2 separate regions of the Homo sapiens genome follow, and region 1 is linked to region 2. The links come from fine-mapping of genetic effects on gene expression. Tissue or cell type: whole blood. Region 2 holds a variant in brackets; the other region holds the start of a gene. All regions are shown on one strand. Distances are between the middles of the regions.

Region 1 (2,911 bases), 74 kb before region 2:
AGGGACATGATTTGCCTCCTGGCAGAGCCAAAATGTTCTCACCTATACTTATATTTATTTTGTTTTTGTCAAACATGTAAGATCTAGAAATTTGTCTAAACCATAGAACGATTATAAGGGTTTCAGGTCCTTATTTTGTCATTGTTTTAAAGTATCTTACTAAACCTATTTTAAAATGTTATCATATAAAAATAATAACTGTTTAACAAAATAATGCATTCCAGTTGAGTTTAATTTACCTTGTGCTATTAACAAAAGACTCTTCAAAAACCAAAATGACAAAGTAAACAAGGTCTATTTAATAACAAACACAGTTTTTTATTACATTTTATTAGATGTGCCGGAACCCTAATTTGAGGATGCTTGCTTACCTATGCTATCCGTATGTACATTTTGGTATTAGCTCTCTTTTTGAGCTGGAATATAAAAGTCTTCTGCAGGCAGCTTCGGGGACCAATTAATTCCATTAAATTATATCTAGTTATGTAGTGAACTGAACCACTGCTGGTCTGAGGCTGTCTAGAGCTGTGACAATTAGGAGATGGAGAGAGGCAGAAAGAGAGATTGATTTTATATGTCACTGAAGCACACTGCAACAATATGCCAGCGTGACTTTCAAAATGGCCTTAAAATATTCCAAACTCAGGGAGTTTCCTTGCTCCTGAGTGGGAGTTGACAGACTGTCTGGCAGCATTAGAAAGAGGCAGAGAAAAGCTGATGTCTATATTGTGTCCTCTAATAACATTCTGCCTCTTTGCGGCATCCCCCTCTTAGAAGGATCCGTCTATATGTTGTGAGGGGTGTGTGTGTGTGTGTGTGTGTGTGTGTATGTATGTATGTGCTTTGCCTCCCCTTGTGCAAGGGGCATGATTTCACGTCTCACATCTGGGAAAACCAAACCGAAGGACGCTAACCCTCCCAAGGTCACCTAGATTAGTCTTGTGGCCCCGGGTCGGGGGTGGGTGGGAGGAACAGAACCCAGGTGTCCAGACTCCAGCTTTGTTGGGCATTAAATCATTTTCCTTCCCTTGTGAAAAAAAATTACTGGGCGGTGGGAAGTGAACGATTAATCAGATTTCCTCTTTTCCCTTATTTCCCCTCCCCCTTACGAAGATAAAAACTCGGGAAAGCAAAAGAGGTGCCCGCCCTGCAGTTCTTAAGCTGGGTCCCCCCGCATTCCCCCTCCACCCCCACTCCCACTCCCATTTCCCCACCCCCGACACAAAGCGATCTGGACTCACAGGGCTTCCGCCCGTCCAACCGCGAGCCTGGGAGGTGAGGAGTGGTTAAAACTCAGCCCTCACCTCCAGCGGGTCCCGGGCTCGGCGGCGCCCAGGCCCCGCCCCCGCCCGCCCTTCCCCCACGGCCTCGGAACGCCAGCCCCTCTCCTCTCTCCACATCGGGCGCACCCACCCCAGATGCCGCCTGGCACCAAGCGCAGCCGCCGCTGCCGCACTTTCCACTTGTATTGATCACCTCTCAGCCCCGCGCAGCCGGCTCGCCCGAGCGGACCGCGGCCAGCGCGCCAGCCCTTGGCAGCCCCGGAGCAGTCGGGCTCCGGGAGGAAACTCCTTGGGAGCGCCCTGTCCGGGGTGCCCTCTGCGCTCTGCAGTGTCTTTCTTTCTGCCTGGGAGGAGGAGGAGGAGGAGGAAGAGGAGGAGGAGGAGGAGGAGGAGGAGGAAGAGGAGGAGGAGGAGGAGGACGTCTGGTCCCGGCTGGGAGGTGGAGCAGCGGCAGCAGCAGCAGCCGCCGCCGCCGCCGCCGCTGCCGCCGCCGCCGGAAAGGGAGAGGCAGGAGAGCCCGAGACTTGGAAACCCCAAAGTGTCCGCGACCCTGCACGGCAGGCTCCCTTCCAGCTTCATGGGCAAAGTGTGGAAACAGCAGATGTACCCTCAGTACGCCACCTACTATTACCCCCAGTATCTGCAAGCCAAGGTAAAGGGGCGCCGGGGAGAGGTGACGGCCGGAGGAGGGGGCCCGGGGACGCGCGCAGGGTCAGGCCTGGGGAGGGGGGCGCGCGGCGAACCCCCGCCACCGCCGGGCGGAGTTGCTGGAAGGTTGCTAACTATAGCGCTGGCCTGGGCAGAGCCGGGCGGCGCGCGGGGCGGCGGCTTCCCTGGGAGCGGAGTGCGGGGATCGGGTTACAGAAAGCCGCGGGGGGAGAGACTAGACAGGAAAGAGCCACCAGCCCCTTCCTGGCCCGGCCAGCGGGGAGGGTCGTGGGGTCGAGCGGCGCCCCTCGCCGAGCCCTGGCTGGCCGGCGGCCGTCGCCTGGTGTGCGCGTCTGGATCCGCTGGTGGCCCGGCTTTTCGACCCCTTCTCCAAGGGCCTCGCCCTGTAAGCTGTAACTCTTCGCTCCCCTCGCCGTGGCGCGGAGCCTCCCGCCCCCCAGGGACGCCCCTCCACCTCCCGCGCACGCGATGACTGGGGCTGGAGGGGCGGCGGGGCCGGGATATTTTCCTCCCCGCCTCCGGCCCTGAGCGCCCGCCCCTCGCCTCTGATCTTTGTGCGGTGTGGCACTTCACCTGGTTACTGATTTCTACTTTTACGCTGGTGTTTTGGGTAGAAAAGTGGCCAAAGTTCACTCGCGTTCATTGATGTCCCTTCTAATCTCTAGAGGTTTTGCAAAGGAGGGACAATGGGCAGATTTCAGTGCAGAGAAAGAAGTGACTTCGTATTTGGTTAAAAAAGAAACAAAAACAAAACTAGCTTATATGTTTGCCACAGATCGATTTCCAATGTTGCTTTTTAAAAAGTGACCTCGGCACACTCTTGGGTAACAACAGTTGATGACATGTAGCCATACAAATTGCGCCTGGCTTTCTAGGGACCCTGGGTACTTTGTTAGTGGGCCTATCTTATTTTTACAATAAGAATTTGATGCCTCCCGAACTCATTTAAAAAAATTATT
Region 2 (2,911 bases):
GAGTTCATGTCCTTTGTAGGGACTTGGATGAAGCTGGAAACCATCATTCTCAACAAACTATCTCAAGGACAAAAAACCAAACACCGCATGTTCTCACTCATAGGTGGGAATTGAACAATGAGAACACTTGGATACAGGAAGGGGAACATCACACACCGGGGCCTGTCGTGGGGTGGGGGAAGGGGGGAGGGAATAGCATTAGGAGATCTACCTAATGTTAAATGAGGAGTTAATGGGTGCCGCACACTAGCAGGGCACAGGTATATATATGTAACAAACCTGCACGTTGTACACATGTACCCTAGAACTTAAAGTATAATAATAAAAAAAAAAAGAAAAAAGAATAAGTTAGAGTGGATCTCAAGAGCTGTCCTGCTGTACCTTGAAGAGGAAAAGGAAGAGACGGTGCCTCTTGGTGTGGGGAAGACAGAACGGTCAACCATTGGAGTTTCAACAGAAGTTGTGCCATCCGGGGAAAGTAATTCTTGGTTGCTTTAGTCATTCTAAAATACATCGTGGTACCATCTTGGGTTTTAATAAATAAATGCTCACCCAAGATAACAGTGAATCATTTCCAAACCTTCTTACCTCAAGAGGCTATAATTTTTATGTATCTGACAGCAAAACTTGTTTTATAGCAGAGAAAGTTGTAGGGGGTACTGAGGTTAATGCTTATCTTTTCTGGGTTCCTGTAACCATGTTCTGGTTCATTCTTTGTAACAAAAATTTTCAGTAAAGTTGGGAGCATGTGTCCTCATAATTTCTGGCTCAGGATCATGTAGAAGTGAGCCACAGTGACTGAGGGGAATATATCATAATCCTCAGGTGAGCTGGACTGGAAAGGAGGCCGAGAACTACTGACTGACAGTGAAGCCAGGTCAATGGGTACTTGCTGACTGTCGCAGGCTGCATTTCAATAGAGTACGTATGGGGAGTATGTGCTAAATCTTGGCCATCATTGTATCTTCAATAGAGGAGTTTATAATGTAAAGACACTGAGCTGGCCTAATTTAGGCATTAATACCATCCTTAGAAAATGTAGCAAGAGGTCTTGGAAAATAGATGAGAGTAGGAAAAACTCAGAGTGGGTAGACCATGAGGCATGATTTCAACAGAGTAAACGGAGGGATGAGTGTGGTTTGGCTGATGGAAAAACAGAGGCTGTTTCCTGGCAAAGCTCAGAGCTAGAGAAGAGTGAGTTCATGGGCAGCCAAGACACAAATAGTAGCTGGAAATAGAGGTAAAGGGACAAGGGAGTTAGAAAGTGGAGAGCTTTACAAGTGCTGTTCAGAAATTTGCATTTGATGTGGGAGTTTTAGGAAGTAGAGTGATACAGCCAAAGAGGCCAGAAAAAAATTATTTTGGAAGCAGGGTATACAACAATTTGGAGTAAATAAGGACCAGTCAGAGGGAAAAACAGAAGAGTTCCAGCAGTTCAAGCTCGAGAAAACTCCATAAAAGATATGGAGAAAGAGAAGAGAGTCAGTATGAATCACAGATAAGCTGCTAATTTAAAAATCGTGTATTTTCACTGTCAAATGTAGAAATTAGCAGCCTCCTATTTGTTTCATCACTCAGATTTGCAGCATTTCTCAATGGGTTTACTGTAAC[C/T]TTTGTACTATCCAGACTGTAGTCTCATAACTTTTTAAATGTTTGGTTTTTTTCCCATTTTCTTTTTTAGGAGAGATTCATGAGGAAAAGGTAAATGGGCAGATAAAGTAGTTATTTAAAAGAAAACTTATAACCGGCTATGTAGTCACTTCCTAGGTGCTGTAGCACCAAGAATCAGTTTACTTTTGTTGTCTGGGATCCTCTGAATCAACCTCACAAGTCTTTTAATACACTGACATCCACTAAAAATACTTGAATTGCGGACATTTTCAAACATACAATAAGGTGGAAAGAAAAACTTCAGCAATTATCAGCACTTTGTCCATTCTTATTTACTGATATAACCTTTTAAATGTTAAATGATAGAATGAAACGAATGATATGATTTTGAACTACAAGAGTTTATACACCTAGGAGTAGACATGGGACTAAAACAAAATTTTTTTAAAGAGTTTATACACCTACTTTAAAAAATCTGTCAGTCACTAAAAGCTTAAATTATGATTCATTTTTAAAATAAAGGGCCAAACAGGCATAGAAAGGGAGGAAAACAGTTCCTATAGTGATTTGCAATATTTTTTAGCCTGATATATTTAATAATGTTCATAGCAAATAGCTTAAGTGAATTCTAAGACTTCTTAAAAGAGTCCCCCTAAAATAGAATATATTTTAAATCAATCAAGAAATTACAAATTACAGAATTTAGCATGATATTCTTTAATATTGAGGAAGTTTGGCTGGTAAATTAGAATGTAAAATTTATCACTGAATTAACCGTGATTAATTATCTCACCCAAGATAACAGTGACTCATTTACAAACCTTCTTAAGTATTTCTTAAGTATTTGAAAGTCATAAGCTTGTTTTAACTTTATAGAATAATAACATCTGTTTGAATAGGACTTGCATACATTTTTAATATATTGCTTATTCATTCATTCCAACATTCATGAACCAATATTCAAACACTTAATATGTGCCAAGCCCTGTGTTAGAGGCTTGGCTATATCAGTAGTTTGGTATGTTAATAATTCTTATTAGATGACTTTCAAGGTGAGATCAATTATAATTTTCTTTTATAACAAGGGGAACATTACAGATAAATGAAATTAATGGATAATCCCCAAGCCTCAGGTTAATCAACCTGCAGTCAATAAATAAATTGGCTGGTTTGTTTCAGTTTTTCATGTTGGTTTTATCATCACACCAGCAGTTAAATGACTAAAAGGAATGCTGCATATGGAAGAAGAGGAAATGCAAGGAACTAGTCAGTTCCTGAACAAATATGAAGTATCAGATAC

The links. PIP is the estimated chance that this variant, and not a neighbour inherited with it, causes the effect.
Region 1: it holds the start of RBMS1, and the variant in region 2 is fine-mapped to the expression of RBMS1 in whole blood (TOPMed, PIP above 0.99).

The regions. Positions count from the first base shown.
Region 1 is chr2:160,492,313-160,495,223 of GRCh38, reverse strand. It overlaps RBMS1 (RNA binding motif single stranded interacting protein 1), which reads left to right and starts at 1,417. Exons shown (of 14, transcript NM_016836.4): 1 at 1,417-1,935. The coding sequence starts at 1,861. RefSeq lists a silencer at 990-1,169 and an enhancer at 1,356-1,876.
Region 2 is chr2:160,418,568-160,421,478 of GRCh38, reverse strand. The region is part of intron 1 of RBMS1 (RNA binding motif single stranded interacting protein 1); the gene reads left to right. Among named protein-coding and RNA genes, the nearest start is that of MIR4785, 12 kb to the right of the region's middle. The variant C/T (reference allele first, on the strand shown) is at 1,612.